Homo sapiens: one gene and its partners. The protein of the gene in region 3 purifies or fractionates together with the protein of the main gene of each other region. This does not show direct contact. Each region holds a gene or a part of one and is shown on either strand. Other genes may lie near its edges. The genes, in order: OXA1L, SPTLC1, SLC35F6, KDSR, HSDL1, GALNT7 and PCYOX1.

Region 1 (4,659 bases), on a different chromosome or scaffold from region 3:
TATGCTATTATTACTGACTATAGTCACCCTGTTGTGCAATCAATAGTAGATCTTATTCTAACTTTTTTTTACCCATTAACTATTCCCAACCCTGACTACCCTTCCCAGCCTCTGGTACCTTCCTTCTACTCTCTGCCCATGATTTCATTTGTTTTGATTTTTAGATCTCACAAATAAGTGAGAACATGGCGATGTTCGTCTTTCTGTGCTTGCCTTATTTCACTTAACATAGTGATCTCCAGTTCCATCCACGTTGTCACAGATGACTGGGTTTCATTCTTTTGATAGCTGTTACTTAAAAGACTGCTCTGCATCCAATTAGCCTACTTCTTTCCATTTACTCCCTCAGCCGTCTGGCTTTTACTCATATCACCTCATTCGAACTGCCAGTAACATAATTGCTAAATCCACTCCTGTCAGCTTTTTGTTTGAGGAAACAAACAGGATTCCTAATCATCTGCTTAGAGAAGTTAATGCCATACTTTTGTGATGCCAAATTAGAGAACTGAGCCTTAAAGCAACTAATTCATTCCCCTGACCTTATTTCTGGGCCTCTTAGGCATGAGTCATAGAATGGACAAGGCAAGAATAAGACCCTTTCAGTAAGGACCTAAAAGCCTTCAACCTTCTAGCTGCAGAACTGCTTTAATTTCACTCCAATCCTAGTTTGTATTTTCCAGGTACAGTCTTTGCCCGCTGCCTGATTTTTCCTCTCATCGTGACGGGCCAGCGAGAGGCAGCCAGGATCCACAATCACTTGCCAGAGATCCAGAAGTTTTCCAGTCGAATCAGAGAGGCCAAGTTAGCAGGAGACCATATTGAGTGTGAGTCAGTTGCAGAATGAGCGTGGGAGAAGTCCACATTTGCACTTTTCCTTACATTCTGCTGGGGGAAAGGAACAATGTAAATCAGAAGTTGCCACAGTCGGGAAAGTTCTAAAGGTTTATCTGTTTCTTAGACCTAATGCTCCCAAGGAGTGGCCAGGGTTGGTTAGAAATTTCACAGGCCAGGTAGATAATGAGGATGTTCACCTCCACTGATGTAACTGTTACCCCAACCATTAATTTCCCCTCACCTCACAGATTACAAGGCTTCCTCGGAGATGGCACTTTACCAGAAAAAACATGGTATTAAACTCTATAAACCTCTCATTCTCCCTGTGACTCAGGTGAGCAAAAACATTTCCTTCCTTATTTCATCCAGTACCCATGAAATTTCCTCTCTGTGTTTCATGTGTCCCAGGTCCCCCAAAAAACAGGTGGTGGTGGATTATACATGGCTTTCAGTAGTGGGGTGATGAAAATGTTCTCTCTGGTAAAGCATGCTGACACTGTTTATCTTGTGTAATAGGCCCCAATCTTCATCTCCTTCTTCATTGCTTTGAGAGAGATGGCCAACCTTCCTGTGCCCAGCCTGCAGACAGGTGGCCTCTGGTGGTTCCAGGATCTCACGGTATCCGATCCCATCTACATATTACCACTGGCAGTCACTGCTACAATGTGGGCTGTTCTTGAGGTAAGCCCAGATTGGCCAAGTGCCAGGCCTGCAAAGTGAACTGGGGTTGGAGGGTAAAGTAGTTGTACAGAATGGTCATCCTTCACTTGCTGGAGAAAGAGTTGATGGGTAAGAGATTAGAGACAGATTCACTGAAACTGACAGCTTTCCCGACTTTTCCACCCCACTTCTTTTGGCAGCTAGGTGCTGAGACAGGTGTGCAAAGTTCTGACCTTCAGTGGATGAGAAATGTCATCAGAATGATGCCCCTGATAACCTTGCCCATAACCATGCATTTCCCCACGGTATGTAATGCCTTATGGGCTGGCTCCAAGGCCTTCTGCCTAGCCTAGCCACCTAGCAAGCTGACCAGGGATACAGCTTCTGAGTCCCTTCTCTGTGTTCTCACCCAGGCAGTGTTTATGTACTGGCTCTCCTCCAATTTGTTTTCCCTGGTCCAAGTATCCTGTCTCCGGATTCCAGCAGTACGCACTGTACTTAAAATCCCCCAGCGTGTTGTACATGACCTGGACAAATTACCTCCACGGGAAGGCTTCCTAGAGAGCTTCAAAAAAGGTAAGGGCTCATCCTCTGTGAAAAAGGACTAGGGAAAGGGGTCTAAAAATAGGAATGCAACTGACTCTCTTGCTTCTCTTTACACAGGCTGGAAAAATGCTGAAATGACGCGTCAGCTGCGAGAGCGTGAACAACGCATGCGGAATCAGTTGGAGCTAGCAGCCAGGGGTAAATAGTCCTTTCAGGCCAAATTCTGTCTTTTGTTTCTTCCTTTCTGTTCTTCGTTGAAATTTGTTTTCTCTTCTCCCCTCAGGTCCTTTACGACAGACCTTTACCCACAACCCTCTCCTACAACCTGGAAAGGATAACCCTCCCAATATCCCTAGCAGCAGCAGCAAACCAAAGTCAAAGTATCCCTGGCACGACACACTTGGCTGACTTATGTTCTGTGCGCATTCTGGCAGGAATTCTGTCTCTTCAGAGACTCATCCTCAAAACAAGACTTGACACTGTGTCCTTGCCCCAGTCCTAGGAACTGTGGCACACAGAGATGTTCATTTTAAAAACGGATTTCATGAAACACTCTTGTACTTATGTTTATAAGAGAGCACTGGGTAGCCAAGTGATCTTCCCATTCACAGAGTTAGTAAACCTCTGTACTACATGCTGCTTCCTGATACTTATTGAACAGGGAAATCAGTGTGCACTTCAGAAAACTGAAGAATACCCAGCATTTTGGGAGGCCGAGGTGGGTGGATCACCTGAGATCAGGAGTTTGAGACCAGCCTGGCCAACATGGGGAAACGCCATCTCTGCTGTTTTACAAAAATAGCCACACGTGGTGGTGCACACCTGTAGTCCCAGCTACTCGGGAGGCTGAGGCAGGAGAATTGCTTGAATCCGAGAGGCGGAGGTTGCAGTGAGCCAAGATCGCACCACCGCACTCCAGCCTGGGCAATAGAGGGAGACTGTCTCAAAAAAAAAAGAAAACTGAAGAATAGAGTGAGTCATGATTGCTTTTGCTGGCCCATGGCCTTGGAAAATATAATGTTTTAACCTGGCATTAAGGGTTTAAACTTCCACCCAGGCGCAGTGGCTCACGCCAGTAATCCCAGCACTTTTGGGAGGCCAAGGCGGGCGGATCACGAAGTCAGCAGATCGAGACCATCCTGGCCAACATGGTGAAACCCCGTCTCTACTAAAAAAAAAAAAAAAAAAATTAGCCGGGCATGGCGGCGGGTGCCTGTATTCCCAGCTACTTGGGAGGCTGAGGCAGGAGAATGGCGTGAACCCAGGAGGCAGAGCTTGCAGTGAGCCGAGATTGCGCCACTGCACTCCAGCCTGGGCAAGAGAGTGAGACTCCTTCTCAAAAAAAAAAAAAAAAAAAAAAAAAAAAAAACAGTTTAAACTTCCAACCCATGCATGTGTTGTTCTATGCACATTTGGATTGCAGTCTAGAGGTGTGGCTGATAAGTTGAATGTTGAGATTGTATCTAAATATAGTAACCGCACTTCTTGATCCCAAGATTACTTTAAAAATTTCAAGAAGTAGATGTGTGCAAATTCTTAGTGATAATTAAGAATGAAAGTTCCAGGCTGGGCAAAGTGGCTCACACCTATAATCTCAGCACTTTGGGAGGCTGAGGTGGGTAGATCACTTGAGTCCAGGAATTTGAGACCAGCCTGGGCAACATGGCGAGACCTTGTCTCTGCTAAAAAGTTAGCTGAGCATGGTGGTGCTTGTCCATAGTCCCAGCTACCTGGGAGGCTGAGGTGGGAGGATAGCTTAAGCCCAGGAGGTTGAGGCTGCAGTGATCCAAGATCATGCTGCTATACTCCAGCCTTGGCTACAGAGCAAGATCCTGTCTCAAAAAGGAAGTTCATGTCATTTTTATGTAACAATCCAACATTTGACTAGAGCAGTTTAAGTGTTCTGTTGTCTGCCTTTGTGTAGAGCCTGGTTTATCAGCCTTCAGCAGCTAGCTTGAGAGAGAAAAGATGGATATACTTTCAAGCATAAGATTGATTTTAGTCTTTGTGTTTCTAGGCTAATGGGAGCTGTCCTAGAGATAGATACTATATAAAATGAAGCCACTCAGACTTTAGGAACATAAACTTTTATTGTCATCCAGCACCTGTGATAGTTTCATGTCTCTCTAAAGGAGACAGGAAATTGGAGCATTGTGGGCCCTTTTAAAAGAAAAGAGGAGTAGGTAGGCACACCCAGGTGCTTCTAAAACAACCAAGCCCAAACCTGACATGCTCCTCCCCACAGTCACCTTCATTGTCCCCTTTAAAAGTCTGGAACAGTATGTAGCAAAACAAATAAATTACTTTTCATTTCAAAAAGTAAGTTCAAAGGTTGAAGCTGCCTAGGCCAGGCTTCTGGACAGGTGCCTCCAAAGAAGTGAGCTTTCCTTTTCAACTTCCTTAGCTCTAGCCAGTAGACCAGAAACCCCTGCTTTCCACATCAGGATTCCAGATGGTGTTTAGTTAGATTTGGGATCCCGTTGCTTGGGCATCTCTCCTCCATCTTCCAAATCCATTTCTGCAGCAACTGACATACACAGGACCTGGAGGTACCTTGTGGCAGACCCTACAAAGAGAACTTTGAGTTGGAATTGAGAAGAGGTCAGCTGGGCTGAGTTC
Region 2 (4,304 bases), on a different chromosome or scaffold from region 3:
AAATGATGCAGGCAAAACTGGATAACCACTTGTGAAAGAATAAAATTGGACCTCTTCATCAACGCATACGCAAAAATGAACTCAAATGAACTACAGACCTAAATGTAAGACTGAAAACTATAAACTCTTAGGGGGAAACATAGCAATAAATCTTGATAATTTTGGATTAAACAAAGATTATTATTATTATTTTTTTTTTTTTGAGACAGAGTCTCGCTCTGTTGCCCAGGCTGGAGTGCACTGGCGTGATCTCGGCTCACTGCAACCTCCACATCCCAGGTTCAAGCAATTCTCCTGCCTCAGCCTCCCGAGTAGCTGGGATTACAGGCGTGTACCACCACACCCGGCTAATTTTTTTGTATTTTTAGTAGAGACGGGGTTTTACCATGTTGGCCAGGCTGGTCTCGAACTCCTGACCTCAAATGATTCACCTGCCTCGGCCTCCCAAAGTGCTGGGATTACAGGCGTGAGCCACCGTGCCCGGCCAGATTAAACAAAGATTTTAAAATAAAACACAAAAGCACAAGCAACAACAAAACACATAAACTGGACATCATCAAAATTTTTAAAAACTGTGTGTCAAAGGACAGTATCAAATAAATGAAACAAACCCCCACAAAATAGGAGAAAATATTTGCAAATCATGTATCTGATAAACATCTAGTATCCAGAATATACAAGGAATTCTTTTAAAAACAAAAAAACAACCCAATTTAAAAAATGGGCAAAGCACCTGAATAGATATGTCTCCAAAGGTATACGCATGGCCAAACAAACAAACAAACAAAAAAAAAAACAAGAAAAGAGGCTCAGCATCATTAGCCATTTGGGGGAAACAGGATCAAAACCACAGTGAGATACTACCTCATGCTCACTAGGGTGGCTAAAACAAACCAACAAAAAACCCTGGAAAATATAAGTGCTGACAAAGATGTAGAGAAACTGTAACCCTGGTATATAGCTGATAGGAATGTAAAATGGTGCAATCGCTGTTGAAAACAGTATGTCAGTTCCTTATTAAGTTAAACACAGAATTACCATATAATCCAGCAATTACCCTGCTAGATATATACATAAAAGAACTGAAAACAGGAATTCAAACAAATACCTGTACACAAATGTTCACAACAGCACTATTTGCAATAGCAAAAAGGTAGAAAGAACCCAAATATCCATCTGTGGATGAACATATAAAACAAAACGTGGTATTATCCATGCAATGGACTATAACTCAGCATTAAAAAGGTATGAAATACTGATACATGGTATACAATGTTAATGAACTTTAAAAACATCAAGTGAATGAAGCCAGAAAGAAAAGGTCATATATTATATGATGCCATTTATAGGAAATAACCAGAAAAGGTAAATCCATAGAGACAGAAAGCAGATTGGTAGTTGCTGGGAGCTAGAGGGAGAAGAAAATGGGGAGTGACTGTTTAATGGGTTTGAGGTCTTCTTCGTGAGTCATGAAAAGGTTTTTGACCTAAAGTTGATGGTTGCACACATGGTAAATGTAATAAATGTCACTGTCCTGTACAATTTAAATTGGTTAATTTTGTGTTATGTGAATTTCACCTCAATAAAGGAAATCTCAATGGTCATGGTTTCTAAAAACAGTTATGCTGCTTTCACTATTAAAAAGCTAAGTTTTGGCCATGCGTGGTGGCTCACGCCTGTAATCTCAGCACTTTGGGAGGCCAAGGAGGGTGGATCACCTGAGGTTGGGAGTTCAAGACCAGCCTGACCAACATGAAGAAACCTTGTCTCTACTAAAAATACAAAATTAGCCGGGCATGGTGGCACATGCTTGTAATCCCAGCTACCTGGGAGGCTGAGGCAGGAGAATCACTTGAACCCAGGAGCCAGAGGTTGCGGTGAGCCGAGATCGTGCCATTGCACTCCAGCCTGGGCAACATAAGTGAAACTCCATCTCAAACAAAAAACAAAACACAAAAAAACAAAAAAGCAAGCTATGCTTTCATTCATATGCAATTCTACAAAAGGTAAAACTAATCTACAGGAATAGAAAGTAGATTAATGGCTGTCTGGGGCCAACATGGGTACTCACTACCAAGAGGCATCAGGAAGCTTTCTGGATAAAGTTTTCTTTCTGGATAAACATTGTCTTACATAAAAATATTCCGTATCTTGACTGTGGTGGTGGATGGCTGCAGTGATACAGATGTATATACATCTGTCAAAACTTATCAAACTTTACCCTTAAAGTAGGTGTATTTTATACGTTGATTTCACCTAAATAAAGCTGGATCTTAAAAGCTACGTATGGCCGACTCAGTGGCTCATGCCTGTAATCCCAGCATTTTGGGAGGCCCAGGCGGGCAGATCATGAGGTCAAGAGATTGAGACCATCCTAGCCGACATGGTGAAACCCCGTCTCTACTAAAAATACAAAAATTAGCTGGGGGTGTCTGCGCACGCCTATAGTTCCAGCTACTCGGGAGGCTGAGGCAGGAGAACTGCTTGAACCTCGGGGAGGAGGTTGCAGTGAGCCAAGATGGCGCCACTGCACTCCAGCCTGACGACAGGGCAAGACTGTCTTGCGGGGGAGAAAAAAAAAGCTAAAGCTAAGTTTTGGCCAGGTGTGGTGGCTCATACCTGTAATACCAGCACTTTGGCAGGCTGAGGCAGGAGGATCGCTTGAGCCCAAGAGTTTGAGAACAGCCTGGGTAACGCAGTGAGACCCCTACTCCACAAAAAAGGGAAAAATCAGCCAGGTGTGGTGGCATGTGCCTGTAGTCCCAGCTAACTCAGAAAGCTAAGGTGGAAGGATCACTTGAGCCCAGGAGGGTAAGGCTGCAGTGAGCTGTGTTCACACCACTGCACTCCAGCCTGGGCAACAGAGCAGTCTTGATTACTCTTTGAAGGCCAGCACTGGCATTCAGTGTTGTTCTTCTTCCCTGATCTGAGCAAAATATGCTTATGAGGCCTAATGCGCAAAGCAACGCAGACGTTATACACTAAAAGCGGTCATAAACAAAAGGCACATCTGTCAAATAGTCCAAATATTAAAATTACAGCTGAACATGGTTGCTTACCAATTCTGGAAGAGGACAAATAGTTCCAGTATTCATATACAATCCTTCTACTACAATGAAACGCCGAGTTACACGAGCCTTGCGAGGATTCTTTAAAAGAGAAAAAGCAGACATCTTACATTTCAGTAACTCTGAAGACAAGATCTGTTACATATTCCCCAGCACTTTCACCTTACAAGATTTATTCCTAAAAAAATATTCTGAATGAATTGAAAGCTCAGTGTTTGTGATGGGTTATTTTGAGATGAACAACAGTACTATCTTCTCTCAGACGTTTTTCAGCTCACAGCATTAGCTAGGTGACCCGCCACACACACAAACTAATTAGGCCCTCTGAGAATATTAAAACACAAACAAAACCCTCCAAACCTCCAACTGGGAAGGGGCCTAAGGGACTTTCTAAAGAAATGGGAATGTTTTACATCATAATGGGGCTGACATTCCTGGGTTACATGGGTATAATCACTGGTCAAAATTGTATGGCTGCATTCATGTGATTCAATGTCTGTCAATTTTACCCAAAACAACTATAATGAAGGTCATCATCATGAAGATGGGGTGAGGAACAGATGGCACAAGAATGATGTAATGCTGATAACAAAGCTGGGAGAAGGGTACAGGGGGCTTCACTATACCACTGTGTTTCCTTCTTATATGTTGGCATTTTTCCATAACAAAAAGTTAAAAAACTCAAACCGTTTTCCTTCACCTCCCAAAAAAAGGGGCAACCCTGTTCCCTCCTCACTCCCCACTGATGTATTATCGGATCAAGTAAAATTTGACTATGAGCTTGTCCAATGATGTTCCCAGGTGGTGGGGTAGAGAGGTCTCCTTTTCTTTTTTTTGAGATGGAGTCTCACTGTCACCCAGGTGGGAGTGCAGTGGCGCCATCTCTGCTCGCTGCAACCTCCGCCTCCAGGGTTCAAGCAATTCTCTGCCTCAGCCTCCCGAGTAGCTGGGATTACAGGCACCCGCCACCACGCTCAGCTGATTTTTGTATTTTTAGTAGAGATGGGGTTTCACCATGTTGGCCAGGCTGGTCTTGAACTCCTGACCTCTTGATTACTGACCTCGGCCTCTCAAACTGCTGGGATTACAGCTTTGAGCCACCACGCCCGGCAGAGATCTTTTCAAAAAACACACACCTTCACACACTCTGCTCAGAGCAAGTCACTAATAAATCTCCCACATGTATGAAACTGTACATGGTTCAGGTGTGTGGGACTGCAAAAAATACTGAGATCC
Region 3 (4,304 bases):
GTAAGAAATACATTTTATATTGTGACCCAGTACACGTGTGCACAGGTTCATGGACACACACACACACACACACTCATAAAAACATTACCCTTACAGTATACAATGCTCTGATATTTAAAAATTCTATTCATTTAAAAAAAGAACTGCCAGCTGCAACTGACTACATTATTTTCACAAGTTTGGAAAAACACAGCTTTCTAGTTCAGTGTGTTACTGGTCTGTGACAAGGAGCTTGCGCCAGAAGGTAAGTCCATGCACTGCTTCACTCATTAAGGTCTTGCTAGAAAACAGAAATGAGTGGAAATAGACTGCATGCTCAGTGATATAGCTAATTCACATTCTGCCTAAGTCCCTTAGCTCACCGGGGGCCAGACAAGAGCTGCTCCCCAACAGGCACTAGCCCCCAGGACATTCTTTGAAAGCGCAGCTGTATCTTGCTAATCTCATAATTTTGATACTTACTTCCCTGCTCAAAAACTTTCAGTGATTCCTCCGTCATTTAAAGTCTAAATCTACTTGCCTGATGGTAAAGTTCTCTAATGACATGACCCTGACCTACTTAATTCCTGATTATTTCCCCAACATCAAACCTATACTGCACTCAAATTATTATTTTTTGAGATGGAGTCTCGTTCTGTTGCCCAGGCTGGAGTGCGGTGGCGCAATCTCGGCTTGCTGCAGCCTCTGCTCCCCCAGTTCAGGCGATTCTCCTGTCTCAGTCTCCTGAGTAGCTGGGACTACAGGCATGCGCCACCACGCCCAGCTAATTTTTGTATTTTTTGTAGAGACGGTTTTGCCATGTTGGGCAGGCTGGTTTCAAACTCCTGACCTCAAGTGATCCACCCGCTTTGGTCTCTCAAAAGTGCTGGGATTACAGGTATGAGCCACCGCACCTGGCCACACTCAAAATTATTCCTCACTGGTTTTCAAATTCACATCCAGTCCCCTGTGCCTTTGCTCTGTTTGGAGCTGCTCCTACTACTGCCTGTTGAAATTTGCAGCTCGAATGCCACCCTCCCTGCCCTGAGAGACTCAGATAGGCATGGCCAATGAGACATCAGTTGAGCACAAGTGGTCCAAACTTGAATTCACTGACTGCCCTTTCTTCCTGCTGGTCACCTCCTCTGAAGGGCTTGCATCTCATTCATCTCTGTCCTTGGTCTCCTCTAGTTCCTGACACAGCAGGTGTCAGAAGACTTGTCAAAACACATCTGGAAGGCAAGGCGGGGCAGGAAGTTCACCCCCCACAAGTGAACCCTGGCACCTTGTCCTGTGCTCAGCTCCCCAGGCTCCCTTCTACCCCACTCCTTCCAGGCCCCTGTGCCCACACACACCCTCAGTGCCAACTGCCCGCAGTGGGTGCACATTGTGTTTGTAGACGAACTTCTCCTCTAGCACCATCTGGATGGCAACGATGATCTGGGCCATGATGATCAACAGGTCCCCTGTGGGGAAGGAGGGACCCAGATGAGAACAGGGCTGCACTGGGGCTGGGGGCCAGGAGAGCATGGCCACAGCGACCAAACATGCCAGCCCCTGACCTCTGCAGGGCCCCCTATAGTTCATAGGCACAGTCACCACTGCCTGTCCCTGATTCCCTGGTTCCTGAGGGGCATGCCAGCAGTGCCAGGCTAAGGCCCCAGAGGCCTGCCTGTGTCTAAGAGCTGCCCCACGGGGTATGACGCAGGTCTTTCAAGAAGCAACAGGCTTTGAGATAGACATTTCTTGGTTGATCCTGACCCTAAGTGACCCAGGACAGTCATTTCATTGTAAAATGGGCTGTGATGCATCCGTTTGGGGCCTGTGGGAGTCACTGTGATGATGAACACACAGTGCTCAGCACCAGGCTGGGCACTTGGTAAGCACCTGTTCCTTTCCACTCCCAAATCCAGTAGTTTGCATGTCTGCATCTGTATCAAAGGACAAGCCAGCCCCTCGCCCTGCCCGGCCTGCCACTCATCCTTGGTGGAGCCACATCCCTTTGCAGTCTTCCCTACATTCTATCCATCACCTCCAGAGCTACCCACCTCACCCAGGGCTTGGTATATGGCACATGGCAGAGCTTGTATGAGTCTGTGCTGGGCTCCCAAGGAGGACAGGGCAGGATAGGGCAGCCCCGTGTCCCTGCCCCTGGCCGCACCTGTGATCACTTCGCTGAGCTTGTGCTGACTGTCGTGCTTGCTCAGGAGGTCAGCCAGGCCCACGACCACCAGCCCCGCGATGGTGGCTAGGATGCCCAGCCACTGGCTCAGCACCAGCCTCCGGCCCAGGAAGGCCACCGAGAACAGGCCAGTGAATATGATCACTGCACCCCGCAGCATCTGGAAGCTGGAGGCACTGGTCATGTTCAGAGCTAGGAAAGGAGAAACAAATTACAGTTAGCTTCCCAAGGCGAAGGCCATCTGTCACTAAGGGGTCTTTGGTGATAGACATGCCAAGCTCATAGTAAGCGCTCGATCAGTCCTGCCTGTGTGCCTGTGCGTGTGAAGTCTGGGGGAATGGTGGGATGAAGTGGAGGTGGGTGGGATAGGGCTGTTTCACCAGTAGCCCCTTCAGCCACAGCTTCCCCTGAGCCCTTCTCAGCCTGGCCTGGTTACTCACCCACATACATGAGGCTGGTCCCTGTCATGTCACAGAGCGCTGGGGGCAGGAAAAGAAGAGGGTTGAAGGGCTGCTGGGGGTCTACGCTGGAGTCTGATTGCCCTGCAGCTCTGCATCGGAGGAGGTAGAAGGCAGCCAGGCAGGAGAATTCTCCCAGGAACATGCCCACTGCCTGCAGGGATGAAAACCCGAGGACTTCAGAGCTGGAAGGGATCTCGGGGATCATCTTTAACTATTTTTTTTAATGCAAACTTTTGTCAAACAAGAGCTTACCCAGAACCCCAATATGTAAAATAGACAAATGCAGAGCTGCCATGGAGGCTAGAGACAGCCTCCTAGGTCTGCCCCAAAGCCCCCATACATCCTGATGAACCCTAAGGCTGTGCAGAGCCCTGTCTGAAAACCATCCATCTAGGCCAACCCCTAGTCAAATCGCAGGTGGAGAAGCCTAGACCCAAGAGAGGCTCAAAGACTTATGTAAGGCCACAAAGCAAGTTGCTGGTAGAGCTGGGGCTGACATTTGAGTCTCCTGATTCTCAGTTCAACGAACAGTGTCTTCCATTTATGGTGTCTGCCCTGTCCCAATTGGGGTCTGGGCTCCCAGTGGATAGAGAGCTGACTTTTGTCACTAGGGCTGATGTTTTCCACGTGTCCTGACTTGGATGTGGTGAGGACATGACCACTTGCCAGGACTTTCGCAGAGGATGGTGCTCTTTGCCCTATTCTAAACCTTGGATTCTGCTCTGGGGAGGGAAAGAGAGAAGTGGATGGCTCTTCTGGGAGCAGGAGACACCTCCACTCCTAAGTCAGGAAACAGCCTGGCCTCATGGCCGGGGGTGGCGCCTGGTCTGAGGCCCGGGAGACAGGAGGTAGGAGGGACAGGGCCAGATACCTGGAGGAAGGGATGCTGGAAGCTGTGCTCCTTGCTCCCTCCACAGCCCTCGGCCATGAAATTGTCCGCCCATCTGTAGGAGAGAGAGGGAAGGTCAGACCCTGTCAGCATCCTACCCTGGTGCTAGTGAAGAGGCTCACACCTCTCAATGTCAAGAGGCCCAGACCTGGGTGACCCGGCCCCAGAGTGGGGCTCCCTCTCAAAGGGGTCAGTCTTCACCTCAAGGAGTTTTAACTTGGCATTTCCTCAAGTCACTGTGTCTGTGCCTCTGTAATGCACAGAAATCACAGATACTCTCATGATCACATTACAGTCATTGTATATATCGTGAGGTATCATTTACACTCATCACTCATGAACATTACAGTAGTCAGACCCACTTATAACAATGTAGTAGAAAGCATTTCTATATAGCTGGGCGCAGTGGCTCACGCCTGTAATCCCGACACTTTGGGAGGCTGAGGTGGGTGGATCACTTGACGTCTGGAGTTCGAGACCGCCTGGCCAACATGGTGAAACCCCGTCTCTACTAAAAATACAAAAATTAGCCGGGCGTGGTGGTACAAGCCTGTAATCCCAGCTACTCAGGAGGCTGAGGCATGAGACTCACTTGAACCTGGGGGACAGAGGCTGCAGTGAGCCGATATTGCACCACTGCACTCCAGCCTAGGTGATGGAGCAAGATCCTGTCTCAGAAAAAAAAAAAAAAAGCATATCTATATATATTCTATATCACGAATTTGCTTTTTTAAGTGTTTGATAACTGTATTTCAATTTAATTGACTTCTTTTGTAATCCTTGGTCTTTTTTT
Region 4 (4,304 bases), on a different chromosome or scaffold from region 3:
GATGTGAAAGGTAAGTTTTCCACCTGACCTAAAGTCCTTTGGTAGATGAAGAGGTAGAAGGTGTCATGATGAGGAAGCCCAGAGCGGAGACAGTGTTGGCAGCAGGCAAGACTGGCCTTGGCCCTGAACACTGACTCCATGACTTCACACCATACTCCTTCGTCTATCAGATATTACAGGAATACGGGAAAAAACGGGGCAATTTACAGAGCTGGTGTTTTTCCAATGCTTGTGGGCTTCAGAGAAGGGGGTAAAGACCACAGTCTTAGAGAAAAACTCACATGTGCAGAAGATATACACAAGGATTTTTACTTGCAGCACAGACTGCAATTGCAAAAATAAAAATACAAAATAAAATAAAAAGAATGGAAACAGCTCAATAGCAGGGACCTGACGGAATAAGCTCTGGTGTACTTCAATCCTAGGCTGCAGCAATTTAAGGCAAATTTACTTAATGCACATGGAAAGATCTCTAACATTCTAGAAGGGAAAAAGTCAATGAATACCACAGTGAAATACTATTCAAAACTCATCAGAAAGGCAAAAAGTAAAAAGTCTGTCAATACCAAGTATTGGCAGGGATGTGGCGCAACAGAAACCGCATTCCTACTTATGGGAGCTTAACCACTTTGGTGAGGTTGAAGAACTGCATACACTACAGCTCTGCAATTCCATTTCTGGGTATGTACCATTCTTGCACACGTGCACAAAGAGAATACTGAAAGCTTTTCTAATAGTAAAAAACAAAACAAACTAACAAAAATACTGGGAACAAACTAAATATCCACCAATTGCTGAACTGATGAACAAAATGTAGTCTATACATACAATAGAATACTACGCAGCAGTAAAAAAAAAAAAATTTACTCCAACTTTTTGCAGCAACATAAATGAATTTTTAAAATTATATATATATATACACATATATATACATACATACATACATACATATATATATATATATATATATATTTTTTTTTGAGATGGAGTCTCCCTCTGTTACCCAGGCTGGAGTACAGCGGTGCAATCTCTGCTCACCTCAAGCTTTGCCTCCCAGATCCAAGTGATTCTCCTGCCTCAGCCTCCCTCCTGAGTAGCTGGGGTTACAGGTGCAGCTAACTTTTTATATTTTTAGTAGAGACAGGGTTTCACCACTTTGTCCAGGCTGATCTCAAACACCTACCTTCAACTGATTTGCCCGTCTCGGCCTCTCAAAATGTTGGGATTACAGGCATGAGCCACCGCACCTGGCCTAAAGAATAATATTGAGTGGTCTGGGAATGGTGGCTCACACCTGTAATCCCAGCACTTTCAGAGGCTGAGGCGGGCGGATCACGAGGTTGGGAGTTCGAGACCAGCCTGATCAACATGGTGAAACCCTGTCTCTACTAAAAATACAAAAATTAGCTGGGCGTAGTGACGCGCGCCTGTAATCCCAACTACCCAGGAAGCTGAGGCTTGAACCCAGGAGGCAGAGGTTGCAGTGAGCTGAGATTGTGCCACTGCACTCCAGACTGGGCAACAGAGCGAGACTCCATCTCAAAAATAAATAAATAAATAAGAAATAAATAATAATAATATTGAGTGAAGAAATCAAGTTGCATAAGAAGCATAAAGAAGGAAGTTATACAAATCTATAGAGAAAGAAAGTAGATGAGTGACTGCCTAGCTGAGAAGAGGCTGGGAGGAAATGGCAAGTGACTGCTAATACACATGGAGATTCTTCACGGGGTGAGGAAAACATTCTAAAATTGATTTTGATGACAGTTGCACAACTCTATGAATACATTAAAAATCATTGAATTATATATTTTAAATGGGTCAACTGTATGGTATATAAATTATATCTCATAAAGCTGTTAAAAAATAAGAATGATATAATAAAAGAAGTAGAACTAAGTATATTGGCCAGGCATGGTGGCTCACGCCCATAATCACAGGACTTTGGGAGGCCAAGGCAGGCAGATCACCTGAGGTCAGGAGTTTGAGACTAGCCTGACAAACATGGTAAAACCCTGTCTCTACTAAAAATACAAAAAAAATTAGCCGGGTGTGGTGGCACACACCTGTAATCCCAGCTACTCAGGAGGCTGAGGCAGGAGAATCGCTTGAACCCGAGAGGTGGAGGTTGCAGTGAGCCAAGATGGCACCACTGCACTCCAGCCTGGGTGACAGAGAGAGACTCTGTCTCAAAAAAAAAAAAAAAAAAGAACTAAACAATATATTATTATTTAGAGTTATGTGCATATATGGTAAAATTAAAAAGAAAAAGAGGCAGGGCACAGTGGCTCACTCCTATAATACCAGCACTTTGGGAGGCAGAGGTAGGCGGACTGCTTGAGCCCAGGAGTTGAAGACCAGCCTGGGCAACATGGCGAAACCCCATCTCTACCAAAAATACAAAAATTAGCCATGCATGATGGCACGTGTCTATAATCTCAGCTACTAGGGAGGCTGAGGTGGGAGGACTGCTTGAGCCCAGGAGGTCGAGGCTGCAGTGAGCTGAGATCGCACCCCTGCACTCCAGCCTGGATGACAGATTGAGACACTGCCTCAAAAAAAAAAAAAAAAAAAAAAAGGAAAGAAAAAAGAAAAGAAAAAGAAAGGATTAACACCAAAAATCGGGTTGGCATTTGCCCCTCTAGGAACAAGAAAAGAGGGACAAGGCTGCTGTGGGGGCTTCAGAGACCCTGATCATTTCTACTTCTTAGGCTGGGTGATGGGTGTGTGATTATTAATTTGCTATTATGTTTTATACTGAAATATAAATAGCATTTTATTCATCAAAAATTCCATAACCAAATAAATTTTAAATATTCCTTTCCTCTTAAGCATTTGTATAAAGTTCATTAAAAAAAAAATTAAAATGAAATTATTTGCCAGTAAAACATTCTGTTATTTGACCATTTGTAGATATGAATGTGTGTGGGAGTCTATTCATTTTGCGTGTGTGTGATATTCTGAGTTACTAGACCATTCAAACAATTCCACCTTTTAAAAAACAGTACATATATGCTTTCAATTAACTATTCACAGGTGAAGTAACTCTGTTTTTCCTTTATACAGCTGTGCTGAGTTATACAGAAAATGCATTCTGAAGACAGAGATTTACCTGTTTGTCATTAATAGAGTGCATTTCAATTTCTTTCTTTGCCTGCAGCAGCTTATCCTGAAAGCAATACAGAATAATTAGTCGTGATGACCGTCTATATGCATGTCCGTTTATTGCAAAGGAGAGAAAAAAAGCAATTATTTCTATATGTATGTATTAAATTCCAGAAAACACACAAAACAGTATCTACATTGCATAGACAGACTGGGCCACAGCCTATGAAAGAAAGAAGTTGTGAAGTATGTTAAGCTATGAATAAGTGATAAAAGTTTGAAAATTAATTAGAGAAAGATAGTAGAAAACAGATAAACCTCAAAATCCCAGTTAACAGTACTAATTGCTGAGGCTGACTCTACAGTTCTAATAAATGTCTTATTATTTAGTTGTGATATAAGACAAGAACAACTCTATTAATATGTACTGCTCCCCAAAGTTGAGGGTATGTGTGACTCCCTGTCAATACTGCTTTTTGTCCAATATTTTCTTCTTCTACTATAAACCCAAACATAGTAAGAATCACTTTCTGGATAGACTGGGTAAACTAGGCCTGGCTACTATAAAATACTCTTAAGCAAGGTTACCTGTGTAATTATGTAATTCTTCCAAGGTCCTAATTTTGTTTGTTTTACTTAGTCTCAAGAAAACAGATATCAGATTATCTTAATTTGCTGTAAAAAGTAACTTAAATAATATCATGCAATAGAGAGGAACCAAAGGAGAGGCGAATTCTTCCAAAAGGCATGCAGAGTTTCTAAACCTGAATATGTCTATAATGAAATAATATTGTCCTATGACTAAAGATACATACAGCTTGACTTTGCAAAGACTGGAATTAAAAATTACATTAGAAAAGAAAGAATTTCTCAGCCAGGCATGGTGGCTCACCCCTGTAATCCCAGCACTTTGGGAGGCCAAGGTGAGTGGATCACCCAAGCTCAGGAGTTTGAGACCAGCCTGGGCAACATGGTGAAGCCCCGTCTCTACCAAAAATACAAAAACTTAGCCAAGCATGGTGGCGAGCACCTGTGGTCCCAGATACTCAAGAGGCTGAAGTGAGAGGATTGGTTGAGCCTGGGAGGCGGAGGTTGCAGTGAGCCGAGATTGTGTCACTGCACTCCAGCCTGGGTGACACAGTGAGGCCGGGCGCAGTGGCTCACGCCTGTAAGCCCAGCACTTTGGGAGGCCGAGGTGG
Region 5 (4,073 bases), on a different chromosome or scaffold from region 3:
ATTGGTGGGTATTTGTTGGGATCGATTGGTGGGTATTTATTGTGATTGATTGGTGGGTATTGTGATTGGTGGGTATTTATTGTGATTGATTGGTGGGTAATGTGATTGGTGGGTATTTGTTGTGATTGATTGGTGGGTATTGTGATTGATTGGTGGGTGTTTGTGATTGGTAGGTATTTGTTGTGATTGATTGGTGGGTATTTGTTGTGATTGGTGGGTATTTGTTGTGACTGGTGGGTATTTGTTGTGATTGATTGGTGGGTATTTGTTGTGATTGGTGGGTATTTGTTGTGATTGGTGGGTATTTGTTGTGATTGGTGGGTATTTGTTGTGATTGATTGGTGGGTATTTGTTGTGATTGCTTGGTGGGTATTTGTTGTGATTGGTGGGTATTTGTTGTGATTGGTGGGTATTTGTTGTGATTGATTGGTGGGTATTTGTTGTGATTGCTTGGTGGGTATTTGTTGTGATTGGTGGGTATTTGTTTGATTGGTGGGTATTGTGATTGGTGGGTATTTGTTTGATTGGTGTGTATTGTGATTGGTGGGTATTTGTTATGATTGATTGGTGGGTATTTGTTGTGATTGGTGGGTATTTGTTGTGATTGGTGGGTATTTGTTGTGATTGATTGGTGGGTATTTGTTGTGATTGGTGGGTATTTGTTGTGATTGATTGGTGGGTATTTGTTGTGATTGGTGGGTTTCATGTGCTGGTCTGTGTACTTGTTCCTTCAGTGTTGATTTTGGGTTCTAACCTTACAACCTTTTTCTCTTTCATTTTTAGTTTCTTTTTGCACAGTATATGCCTGAATGGCTCTGGGTGTGGGGAGCAAATATTCTCAACCGTTCACTACGTAAGGAAGCCTTATCCTGCACAGCCTGAGTCTGGATGGCCACTTGAGAAGTTTTGCCAACTCCTGGGAACCTCGATATTCTGACATTTGGAAAAACACATTTAATTTATCTCCTGTGTTTCATTGCTGATTATTCAGCATACTGTTGATTCGTCATTTGCAAAACACACATAATACCGTCAGAGTGCTGTGAAAAACCTTAAGGGTGTGTGGATGGCACAGGATCAATAATGCCTGAGGCTGATTGACGACATCTACATTTCAGTGCTTTTTCCCTAAGCTGTTTGAAAGTTACGCTTTTCTGTTGTTCTAGAGCCACAGCAGTCTAATATTGAAATATAATATGATTTGTCAGGTCTTATAATTTCAGATGTTGTTTTTTAAGGGAAATTGACCATTTCACTAGAGGAGTTGTGCTGGTTTTTAAATGTGCATCAAGAAAGACTACTGAAAAGTATTATTTTGTAACTAAGATTGCTGGTACTATTAGGAAAAATCTGTGTGTATTGTATAGCTCTAGCTGTTTGACTATCTGTAATGAAAATGCTGCACTTCAACTGGTATTTCATTAGAGAACCGTGTGTGTGCGTGTGTGTGGTGCCTTTGAGCAACTTTATTTATGGTTACCATATTTTTAAAAAGATTTTTTGTCAGGGTGACTTAACATGGACTCTTATAGGGTATTAAAACAATCTAGATTATTCCTTTTCATCCTAAATAAGCCTACCAAATTTCATGCTGTTGGTTTGCCATGAATGATATTACTTCCTACATTATATTTGTGTTTTTTCAAATCTGCTATGGAATGAACTTATTCCTAGATTTGGATATGTAAGAGAAACCTGCAGTCATCTTTTGATTTATAAGGCAATTCTTGTGGATAAATAGTGATTTCTCAGCCTCTGACCCATTTTATAACTGAAATTTAGCCCTTTAGAGCTTGTTATATCTGGTTTTCCTACGTTTTTCTATGTAATATTATTCCATTCCAGTAGCATTATTGATAGAAATAGTAAGTATTTATGGAATAGTAAAATATGGACAAATTACGTGTGTGACATATCTGTCAATATAAGTTAGAAGCTTATTCTTGGTTTGTGTAATGAATTTATGTATTGTAGTGAATACCTTTACTGGTGTGAAGATAATTATGCACAAACCCTCACAATACGCGTTAACATTGAAACCTGTGAAATGTCCTTAGTTTGGGTCATATAAAGCCAACCATTTTTGAGGACCATGTACCTAGTGCTTTGAAAACTCTAAGTCACTATATGAATATGACAATATGTGCACATTTAAAATTCAGAGCTCGGCATTGTGATACTGATGCAGAAGCTAGTAGATTGGTTAAAAGTCTGGACTTCTGTGGCATTTTTTTCGTGACGTGATAATCTATCATAAGCAGACCTAAGCACAGTTTTATGAACACAATTTTGCCCATGACATTGCCTACAGGATTTCCAGATGTGACTTGCACTCAGAAGATCAGTGGTCAACTTCAGAAGCTCTTCCACGCTTAGATCATGTCTTCAGAACTTAGATGTGAAAATCTACACACTGGGAGATGCTGTGAGCCCCAAGGTTTTGATGGAGTTTGCTTGGAATCCTCTTGACTTCATGCCACATTGACGTGAACTTTGATGTATAATAAGCAGCAGCAACTTCATGTGAAAATATGGTCAGGTAGTTATATGTAAGGTTACGTGGTCCAGTAATGTCTTAGATTGATAAATTAGGTATGGAATCCATCAGTGTTACGTGATGAGAATAGGTGAACACACCTTGTCAGTGATGATGTAAACTTCTCTCCTTGGCAGGACATGGGCAAACATGCTGATTGGTGCAAATGTGGTGCCGAGCTGTCCATAGCTGCAGTGAAAGATGAAGAGCAAGACCTTCTCTAGGTTTTCTAGCTTTCATTAAATGTATTTTTTTCCCCAGAGCTAATTTGAAAGTTGATTGGACCACTGTGGATGGGGTGTCATTAAGAATGTGGGAAATAGGGGCCGAGTGCGGTGGCTCACACCTGTAATCCCAGCAGTTTGGAAGGCCAGGGCAGGTGGATCGCTTGATCCCAGGAGGTCGAGACCAGCCTGGGGAACACATCCTGTCTCTACAAAAAATACAAAAATTAGCCAGGCAGGGTGGTGCATGCCTGTAGTCCCAGCTACTTGGGAGGCTGAGGCAGGAGAATTTTTTGAGCCCAGGATGCAGAGGTTGAAGTGAGCCAAGATCGTGCCACTGCACTCCAGCCTTGAGACAGAGCGAGACCCTGTCTCAAAAAAAAAAAAAGAACGTGGGAAATATGAACCTTTGAAAGTTAATCTGTGAATTGAAAGTTTAACAATAAAAGTAGTTGTTTGTTTCCTTTGGAAGAGTTTTGTTCCAGATGTTTGTAATTTGGTTGTTTGTAATTTGGAATGAGAGAATTTTTTTTTCTTAGGAGTGATTGCAAGAAATTAACATGAACAACAGTGGTCATAACTGATTAAAAGCTGACACGTCAGTAACAAAATTGTTTATAACTATGTGCCTAGTCTTTGGAAGCTACTGGGTTGACTTCTGGATCTCTTTCTCTTGGTAGGTTGAGTAAGGTGAGGATTGATTTGAGCATGGAATTTGGCTGTGTGGATGGAGATCATTGGTGATTTTTTTCCATGAGCCATTTCAGTCTTCAGGCTAGAATTGTAATGGATTCAAGAAAGAGTGGGAAGAAGAAAAAAAGGGAAGAGAGCAGATAGAGACAGCTCCTAGGAGACTTTCCTGTGTTTTCCTATCCTCAATTACTTAAAATCTAATCACATTTGGGAACCAGAGGGTTAGATGGTTATGTCCTCAAAACCTATTCCAGTCAATTTATGTCTCAGTCTCAGTATTGGCTTATGTGTTATTTATCTTTTTAAAAATTCATATATGTTTAATGAGTATAAAGCCAAGCACAGGACAGTCGTGAATTCAGTAGAAATATTCTCTGTTATTCCTGGCCGCGTGCAGTGGCTCACGCCTGTAATACCAGCACTTTGTGAAGCCGAGGCGGGCGGATCATGAGGTCAGGAGTTTGAGACCAGCCTGACCAACGTAGTGAAACCCCGTCTCTACTAAAAATACTAAAATTAGCCGGGCGTGGTGGCGCGCCCCTGTAATGCCCGTTGCTCAGGAGGCTGAGGCAGGAAAATCACTTGAACCCGGGAGGCGGAAGTTGCAGTGAGCTGAGATC
Region 6 (4,304 bases), on a different chromosome or scaffold from region 3:
GAGTTAAACATAATTTGCTGTAATAGGACAGGTAAAATAAGAGTATAGGGAAAAAGTATATTAAAGCAAGAAGTACAGAGAGAGCAGCATGAGTGTCCTCTGTTGGTTTTTCCTTCTATTCCTGAACTCTAAATGCTGGCGTTTCTGACGGATGGGTCTAGTCTTCTCTTCTCTATCTGTGTTTTCTCCCTCGGGGACCTCATTCAGTCCCATGAAACGACCTACCTGCTGATGGCCCCAAATGCACATCTCCAGAGTGGCCTCTCTTCTGGACTTTGGCATCATACAACCTACAATCTATGATCAGTAGGCCTTAATGGCTCTACCTGGACGCCTAGCAGGTACTTCACATGCCCAGAACACCAACAGAAGCCTTGCCCCCTCCATTCACTCCCCTACTATCTTCCCAATCTCAGCAGCCACCTAATCAGCTACTCAAAACAACCTCGATGTCATTCTGGCCCTTATCCCTTCACACACCAACCCATAAGGAATCCACTCCCAGATGAACTATGCTTCCGCAGTTGGTCAGCTTCCCTTCATCTCCACTCTCTGATTGGCTGACTCTTTATCATTCAGATCTGAGAGCGAATGTCACCTCCTCAGAGAGGCTTTCCTTACCCTGCCCTTAAGTCCTCTTGACAGTATTATGTGTCATTATCATTTATCACCATCTGTCATTATCATTTTTGTTTTCTCAGACTTTTTTGGTCTCTCTCCCCAGGTAGCATGCCAGTTCCCTGAGAAAAACGACTTTGCTTCTCTGGTTTTCTGTCTAGAAGAGTGACTGGCACATAGTAGGCCCTCAACCAATATTTGCTGAACATAATTAAGCAGAGGGATGTAGACTTGAACGTTCATGGCAGGTTTAGTGTACCTGTGAGGCATACAGCGGGGCTGCAGGGAGCAATCAGAAGTGAGTCTGAAGACAAGTTTGAATAAACAAAGAAATGACAATGTCTGATTGTCAAAGTGCTTTTGTCTGATTTTAATTATTTTTAATTCATTTGAAAAGCATTGTTGGAGTATCTACTGTATATGGGTCCCTGCATCAGTCCACCTGGACACAAGTGATCAAGGTCCTGAAGCACTCAGACTGGTTGGGAGATAGGTGATTTTGGGTGTTGTGAGAACCCCTGGAAAGAACATAGAACTGCATCTTTTTGATGAAGTGGGGAATAGTAAGAAGGGCTTTTCAGTATTGGTGATCTCTAAGTTGAGAGCAGTAAGATAAATTGAAATTAGTTAAGGAAGGGAGTTGGAGTAAGAGGCATGGAGGCGCCAGGAGCTGGAGTGAAGAGTGGATGTCTTGCAGGCTAGGGGGCCAATGAGCAAAGGCTGCCAGGAGACAGCATGGTGGCCAGCTGGTCTGGCAGCTATAGCTGTTTAGTGGAAAGGTGGTAGATCCTATCAGACAGTTTTTACCCCAACTTTTCCCCAAGAATACTTCCCTCTTACATATTTCCACCTCTCTCTGCCTTCTCCCAAACTCAGTCTACAAACACATACATTTTGAGATGTGACTACTTACTTCTCCCCAGTCAACATTTTTGGGTGGCAAAGGGTAGTGTGAGGTGATATCATAAGCTATTTCTTCCATGAACCACTTAAAACTTTTGCAGTTGTGATCTTCTCGAAATTTTTTCAGCTCCGATATATCCCCATATGGTAATGCCTGCGATTCAGGACGACTAGCATAGAAGTAGTCTTTATATTCATCCCACCAAACCTCCACAACTCTAACATAATTCTGTAAAAAAAAAATATATATATATATATCGTTATAAAAATACAAATGTCATATCATAAACAGCCTATATTAGACACATGAAAATGGCCTACACATAACAAATTCATTTCAACAGGACCTGGCATTTAATTAAACAACAAATGCAAGTTAATGACTCTAATATGTCATCTGCCAAGGATTAAAATATCATGTGTATTTAAGTAAAAAGTATTGTACAAAACCTGATATCCCTGAGCTGGAAGATCATATATGCTGAGATAATGTATTCTATTCTGCTAACAGAAGAATAAATTGAATCTCAGAGAGAGTTTATGAGAGCTTGGCTGGACACTGTACTTCTTTCCCTATAATAATCTCTTTCTTTTCTTTTCTTTTTTTTTTTTTTTTGTGATGGGGTCTTGCTCTGTCATTCAGGCTAGGGTGCAGTGGTGCAATCTTGGCTCATTGCAGCTTCAACTTCCTGGGTTTAAGTGATCCTCTCACCTCAGCTTCCCGAGTAGCTAGGACTATAGGTACATGCCACTATACCTGGCTAATTTTTGTTATTTTTTTGTGTAGATGGAGTCTCATTCTGTTGCCCAGGCTGGTCTCAAACTCCTGGCCTCAAGAGATCCTCCCACCTCAGCCTCCCAAAGTGTTGGAATTACATGTGTGAGCCACTGTGCCTGGCCTACAATCTCTTTCTATTAGAATCGTTCTGTTGATAAGTGTAGGGAAAAAAATATCATTTCAGAAACCATCATGAGAAACAAAAGCTCTGTTTAATAAAACACATTTTTGCAGGTGATTTTATTGATCCTGTTATAACTATAATAGAACTATTTTACTATAACCCCAAATGGACTGGGTATTTTCCCCAGTTGGTTCCTTTCTTTAATTTAAAAAAAATATATATTTTTGAGATGGAGTCTCACTCTGTCACCAAGGATGGAGTGCAGTGACGCAATCTCGGCTCACTGCAACCTCTGCCTCCCAGGTTCAAGCGATTCTCCTGCCTCAGCCTCCTGAGTAGCTGGTATTACAGGTGCCCGCCACCACACCTGGCTAATTTCTGTACTTTTAGTAGGGATGGGGTTTCACCATGTTGGCCAGACTGGTCTTGAACTCTTGACCTCAAGCAATCTGCCTGCCTTGGCTTCCCAAAGTGTTGATATTATAGGCGTGAGCCATTGCCCCCGACCCCAGTTGGTTCACTTTAAGAAAAAGCAGCTATAGAGCAATAAAATATGCTGACACTGTGATAGCTGACAAATATCTAGCTTTTAAAGCTTTAATTGATGAATGAATGGTTGCATGAATATATGTGACCAAATTGGTACACACTTGAGTGATAATTTGCATGTGATTTGTCTCTGCCAACATTCATGTTGAAATGTGATGCCCAATGTGGCAATGCTGGGAGGCAGGGCCTGCTGGGAGGAGTTTGGGTTGTTAATACATTAATGGCCTCCTATGGAGGTGAGGGGGTGAGTTCTTGCTCTCACAGAAGTGGATTCGTTCCCACAAGAGTAGTTTGTTAAAGAGTCTGGCTTCCTTGGTCTCTCTCTTGCTTCCTCTCTCGCCATGTGATGATCTCTTTGCACATGTGCATTCCCCTTCTGCTTCCCATCATGAGCTGAAGCAGCATAAGGCCCTCACCAGATGTAGCTGCCCAAGCCTGAATTTTCAAACCACCAGAATCGTGAATAAATAAACCTCTTTTCTTGATAAATTACCCAGCCTCAGGTGTTCTGTTGTAGCAACACTAAATGAACTAAAATAATACTCAATCCCTTAATCTTGTACATCATGCATCAGCAAATATTCTCTATAAAGGGCCAGATAGTAAGTATCTTGGGCTTTTTGGGCTATACAGTCTCTGTGGCAACTATTTGACTCTGCTATTGTAGTGAGAAAGTAACCGTAGATAATACACAAACAAATGAGTGTGGCTATCTTCTAATACAACTTGATTTACTAAAAAGGGTTGGATTTGGCCTGTCAGCCATGTGGCCGACCCATGTTTTACATTCAAAAAAGAAATACCTAGTGTTCAGATTAAATGTTTTCTAGGCAACAAGATAACTATCAAAGGGTGAACATGCCCCTAGATGCATTGTTGTCACAAAAGCCCATGGGTTTAAAAAAAGCTGTTATAAGCAGCATGATAAAAGAACATACGATATTACCACTTGATATGGTTTGGATCTGTGTCCCTACCCAAATTTCAGGACCAATTATAATCCCCAATGTTGGAGGCGGGGCCTGGTGGATGGTGACTGGTTCATGGGGTGGATCCTCCATGAATGATTTACCACCAGTCCACCCCCCACCCCCATGCCCACACTGTCCTTGTGACTCTGAGTTCTTGTGACATCTGGTTGGTGAAAAGTGTGTAGCACCTTCCTGCTTCTCTCTCTTGCTCCTGCTCCCACCAGGTGAGACGCCTTGCTCCCCCTTTGCATTCCACTATAATTGGAAGCTTCCTGAGCTTTCTTAGAAGCGGAAGCTGCCAAGCTTCCTGTACAGCCTGCAGAACTGTGAGCCAATTAAACCTCTTTTCTTTATAAATTAC
Region 7 (4,304 bases), about 43 Mb from region 3:
ACCAAATAGTTCATCTTTAACATAGCTACTGCGCTCCAAAATTGAAGTCAACACAGTCATTACTACAAATTACTTGTTGAAAGAATCTATCTTCAAAAGAAAGAAAATTAGGAAAGAGAATTTAAACGATTCCTCCAAACCATACATTTATAAATATTGTCATATTTAAAATGCTTGAAAGGCGTGAATTCTCCATTAATGGAAAAGCAGTTTGCTATTGGCAACAGAAAAAAACTCAGCGATAATTTACCAAATGCTTTAAAATTTAAAAGCTATACTGTTTGGATTCACACTTGCGCAGTAATCTTGTCATTACAACAACTGCAAATTGCTTTGTACTCACCTTCTCTCAAGTAAAATCTAAAGAAAACCCCACCGTATCCAATGTTTGTAATGTTTACTTCAAGTGAATCTAAAAAATTTCTAAATTTAGTTTATGGTAAATACCTCAAAATACCTAAAAATAGGTACGTATCAACCACTTAAGGGTGTGAAAATTGTTTCAGATTCACTGCTTTAAAGGGTCTTCAAATATATTTTCTTTAACAGAACCTTACTTCATTCCAAATTATTATCAGATATTTCAAAATAAAAAAAAAGTATCAGTTCTATACCAAGATAAAGGTGTTACTCAATACCTGAAGGTTCACATTTTAAATTTATTTTTTAGTTTTTCTTTTTTGTCAACAAATGATTGATGAAATAATGCAACACCCTTAAATTCCAGAAAATGGCATGGTTTTTCCAACCTCCTGTGGATATGGTGCATGATCAATCTATTATATAGGAGCCTGGCTAATTTTTAATTTTTTTTTTTTTTTTTTTGAGAGGGAGTTTCACTCTGTCACCAAGGCTAGAGTGCAGTGGCACGATCTCGGCTCACTGCAACCTCTACCTCCCAGGTTCAAGCGATTCTCCTGCCTCCACCTCCCAAGTAGCTGGTATTACAGGCATGCGCCACCATGCCCAGTTAATTTTTGTATTTTTAGTAGAGGTGGGGTTTCGCTATGTTGGCCAGGCTGGTCTCAAACTCCTGACCTCAAGCGATCTGCCCGCCTCAGCCTCCCAAAGTGCTGGGATTACAGGCATGAACCACTGCGCCTGGCTAATTTTTACATTTTGTGTACAGACAGAGTCTTGCTATGTTGCCCAGGCTAGTCTTGAACTCCTGGCCTCAAGGTATCCTCCTGTCTTACTCTGTCACCCAGGCTGGAGTATATTGGCTGGCTGTTCACAGGTGCAACCATAATGTACTACAGCCTTGTGCCCCTGGGCTTAAGTGATCCTCCCACCTCAGCCTCTTGAGTAGCTGTGACTACAGGTGCATGCTGCCTCACCTGGGTGCTGTTTTTTAGTAGTATTTATTCTGTTTTTTCATTTATTATTATTATTTTTTTGAGATGGAGTCTTGCTCTGTCATCCAGGGTGTAGTGCAGTGGTGTGATCTTGACTTACTGCAACCTCTGTCTCCTGGGTCAAGCAATTCTCATGCCTCAGCCACCTGAGTAGCTGGGATTACAGGCATGCACCACCACACCTGGATAATTTTTGTATTTTTAGTAGAGATGGGGTTTCACCATGTTGGCCAGGCGGTCTCAAACTACTGACCTCAAGTGATGCTGCCCCACTTTGCCTCCCAAAGTGCTAGGATTACAGGCATGAGCCACCATACCCAGCAGTGTATTTATTCTAATACGATTAGTTGTATCATGAAACAATTAGAGTGCTCTCTGTTTATATTGTGTATATAGTTTCATCTCACCGCTGCCACCCCGCCCCCTCCCAGGGAGACTTGCTTGAGTGAGGTTGCAGCTCTGGCAGGAGCAGTTGGGGAATATGTTTTTTATAGCATCATTAGTAGCTTATTTAATTGACTGTTATTTTCTCATGTTGACCATTAGCCAAAGATCACTCTTCTTTGGATATGAGATATCCAGGCTATTATTTTTCTGAAGAATTCAGTGTTTCCATCCTACTTTTTCCAGTCTCCTAAAGACTGGGACCCAAATGCTATGGTTAGAAGGTATTTAGTTTCTCAGTTTTGGCATAGATATCGAATCAGTTTTTCCAATAAAAATGTGTTTAACATTTTGTACACTTATACTACTACTATGCTTTTAGTAGGTAATACTGAAATGGTTATAATACTGTCCCTTGTTCTGTAAAAAAATATAGTACATTTTGAGAGAAAAACTTGATGTGAAAGTTTCCCTTCCATGATCAGTGATAGGGATCTTTCCTTGGCTCTTAATTTCTTATTTTCATATACTTATCTCTGCATGTGCCTTATTACTTATCCCTAACTATAAGCCCCTTAAGGGAATAAGAGATAAACCCCGTATTACTTATCCCAAACTTAAGCCTGTTTTCCATCTTTGTACTATTTGCAACATGAAAAATTGTGTTTGAATTACTGAATGCACTAATTTATGTGAATGTTGTTTTAAATCCATAAAATGCAGAGAAGTGTTGGGTGATATTTTTCTTTTTGGTCAAGTGATGTTTTCTAAAAAATAATAGAAAGCATCTAATTGTTGAATGAGTGGCATTGGTGCTAAGTTTTATGAGGCTTCTGGAGATGATATAACTGTGGACTGGGAAGTTGAGCAAGACTTTTCAGAGAAGGTGGGATTCAAGTTCTGTTAAGGAAGAATAGATGTTCCATGGTTAGGAATGGGAAGTGTATTCAGGTTGGAGGGAAGAGCTTGTGCACTGGTGGGGATACAGCATGTAGGGCAAATTTAGAGACCAGTGAATGGGTCAGGTGTGCTCCAGTGGAGACTGTGCATGTGTGGGTGATTGACAGCAGAGTGGGCAAGTTGTGATTGAGCCTTATACTTGCCATGTGGCCTTTAGACAAAGTATTTTACTTCTACTTTTTTTTTTTTTTTTTTTTGAGATGGAGTCTCGCTCTGTTGCCCAGGCTGGAGTGCAGCGGTGTGATCTCGGCTCACTGCAACCTCCGCTTTCTGGGTTGAAGCGATTCTCCTGCCTCAGCCTCCTGAATAGCTGGGATTACAGGCGTGCGCCACCAGGCCCAGCTAATTTTTGTATTTTTAGTAGAGACGGGGTTTCACCATGTTGGTCAGGCTGGTCTCAAACTCCTGACCTAGTGATCTGCCTGCCTTGGCCTTCCAAAGAGCTAGGATTACAGGCATGAAACCACCGCGCCTGGCCTTACTTCTACTTTTTATTTTTCCTTTTTCTTCTTCTTTCTTTCTTCCTTAGTTTCTTTTCTTTTTTTTTTTCTTTTTTTTTTTTTAAGAGACACTGTCACTGTCTGGCCCAGGCTGGAGTGCAGCGGCATTATCACAGTTCACTGCGGCCTTGAATTCCGGGGCTCAAGCAGTCCTCCTGCCTCAGCCTCCCAAGTAGCTGGGACCACAGGCATACACCACTATGCCTGGTTAATTTTTGTATTTTTAGTAAAGCTGGGGTTTTGCCATGTTGGCCAGGCTGGTCTTGAACTCCTGACCTCAGGTGACCTGCCCACCTCTGCCTCCCAAAGTGTGGGGATTATAGGCGTGAGCCACTGCACCTAGATGTCAGTTTGATTCTTATGACGCCACTTCCCTTCTTTATACATCCCCTTCCCCACATCTTGTTTGGTATTTAATGGATTTCTCTTCTTTTCCAAAGGATCTACCGCTACCAGTCTCATGACTATGCCTTCAGTAGTGTCGAAAAATTACTTCATGCTCTAGGAGGAGATGACTTCCTTGGAATGCTTAATCGAACACTTCTTGAAACCTTGCAAAAGGCCGGCTTTTCTGAGAAGTTCCTCAATGAAATGATTGCTCCTGTTATGAGGGTCAATTATGGCCAAAGCACGGACATCAATGCCTTTGTGGGTAAGCCAGGGCTTGAAACAGTGGTGGACATTAGTTCACAGAGGGGCTTACCTGATGCTATGGTGGTTCCTGACTTTAGGCTGTGGATTGGAGGCTACTTTTCTCTGTGAACCTCAGACATTGTTAGCAAAATTGTGCGTATGTAGATGTGCATTTTTAGGGGGAGAGGGTCTTTAGCTTTCATTAGTTCAGTAATTCTTAACTGGGGGAGATTTTGCTCCCAGGGGCCATTTAGCAATGTCTAGAGACATTTGGAGTAGAACATGTAATTGGGAAGGGAGAGTGGGTAGAGAGCCTCTTACAAAAAGTCAGAATTAAAACACATTTTTCCTCCTATTGACAGGGGCGGTGTCACTGTCCTGTTCTGATTCTGGCCTTTGGGCAGTAGAAGGTGGCAATAAACTTGTTTGCTCAGGGCTTCTGCAGGCATCCAAAAGCAATCTTATATCTGGC

What was found.
Region 1: the proteins of SLC35F6 (region 3) and OXA1L purify together in Homo sapiens (affinity purification with mass spectrometry; one large-scale study listed by BioGRID and IntAct). This does not show direct contact.
Region 2: the proteins of SLC35F6 (region 3) and SPTLC1 purify together in Homo sapiens (affinity purification with mass spectrometry; one large-scale study listed by BioGRID and IntAct). This does not show direct contact.
Region 4: the proteins of SLC35F6 (region 3) and KDSR purify together in Homo sapiens (affinity purification with mass spectrometry; one large-scale study listed by BioGRID and IntAct). This does not show direct contact.
Region 5: the proteins of SLC35F6 (region 3) and HSDL1 purify together in Homo sapiens (affinity purification with mass spectrometry; one large-scale study listed by BioGRID and IntAct). This does not show direct contact.
Region 6: the proteins of SLC35F6 (region 3) and GALNT7 purify together in Homo sapiens (affinity purification with mass spectrometry; one large-scale study listed by BioGRID and IntAct). This does not show direct contact.
Region 7: the proteins of SLC35F6 (region 3) and PCYOX1 purify together in Homo sapiens (affinity purification with mass spectrometry; one large-scale study listed by BioGRID and IntAct). This does not show direct contact.

The regions. Positions count from the first base shown.
Region 1 is NC_000014.9:22,769,111-22,773,769, forward strand, and holds the end of OXA1L (mitochondrial inner membrane protein OXA1L), read left to right. Parts: intron 1-680; coding exon 681-824; intron 825-1,082; coding exon 1,083-1,168; intron 1,169-1,350; coding exon 1,351-1,515; intron 1,516-1,694; coding exon 1,695-1,799; intron 1,800-1,907; coding exon 1,908-2,070; intron 2,071-2,157; coding exon 2,158-2,238; intron 2,239-2,323; coding exon 2,324-2,448; 3' UTR 2,449-3,932; downstream 3,933-4,659. Other genes in the region: SLC7A7 (Y+L amino acid transporter 1), read right to left, coding at 4,500-4,606.
Region 2 is NC_000009.12:92,052,346-92,056,649, forward strand, and holds part of SPTLC1 (serine palmitoyltransferase 1), read right to left. Parts: intron 3,150-4,304; coding exon 3,060-3,149; intron 1-3,059. UniProt on the Homo sapiens protein: Component of the serine palmitoyltransferase multisubunit enzyme (SPT) that catalyzes the initial and rate-limiting step in sphingolipid biosynthesis by condensing L-serine and activated acyl-CoA (most commonly palmitoyl-CoA) to form long-chain bases.
Region 3 is NC_000002.12:26,773,513-26,777,816, reverse strand, and holds part of SLC35F6 (solute carrier family 35 member F6 precursor), read right to left. Parts: intron 3,567-4,304; coding exon 3,494-3,566; intron 2,774-3,493; coding exon 2,602-2,773; intron 2,354-2,601; coding exon 2,141-2,353; intron 1,446-2,140; coding exon 1,335-1,445; intron 1-1,334. UniProt on the Homo sapiens protein: Involved in the maintenance of mitochondrial membrane potential in pancreatic ductal adenocarcinoma (PDAC) cells. Promotes pancreatic ductal adenocarcinoma (PDAC) cell growth. May play a role as a nucleotide-sugar transporter.
Region 4 is NC_000018.10:63,356,624-63,360,927, forward strand, and holds part of KDSR (3-ketodihydrosphingosine reductase), read right to left. Parts: intron 3,170-4,304; coding exon 3,113-3,169; intron 1-3,112.
Region 5 is NC_000016.10:84,121,439-84,125,511, reverse strand, and holds the end of HSDL1 (inactive hydroxysteroid dehydrogenase-like protein 1), read left to right. Parts: intron 1-783; coding exon 784-882; 3' UTR 883-3,371; downstream 3,372-4,073.
Region 6 is NC_000004.12:173,311,404-173,315,707, reverse strand, and holds part of GALNT7 (N-acetylgalactosaminyltransferase 7), read right to left. Parts: intron 1,751-4,304; coding exon 1,532-1,750; intron 1-1,531. UniProt on the Homo sapiens protein: Glycopeptide transferase involved in O-linked oligosaccharide biosynthesis, which catalyzes the transfer of an N-acetyl-D-galactosamine residue to an already glycosylated peptide.
Region 7 is NC_000002.12:70,271,320-70,275,623, forward strand, and holds part of PCYOX1 (prenylcysteine oxidase 1 precursor), read left to right. Parts: intron 1-3,639; coding exon 3,640-3,851; intron 3,852-4,194; coding exon 4,195-4,304. UniProt on the Homo sapiens protein: Prenylcysteine oxidase that cleaves the thioether bond of prenyl-L-cysteines, such as farnesylcysteine and geranylgeranylcysteine. Only active against free prenylcysteines and not prenylcysteine residues within prenylated proteins or peptides.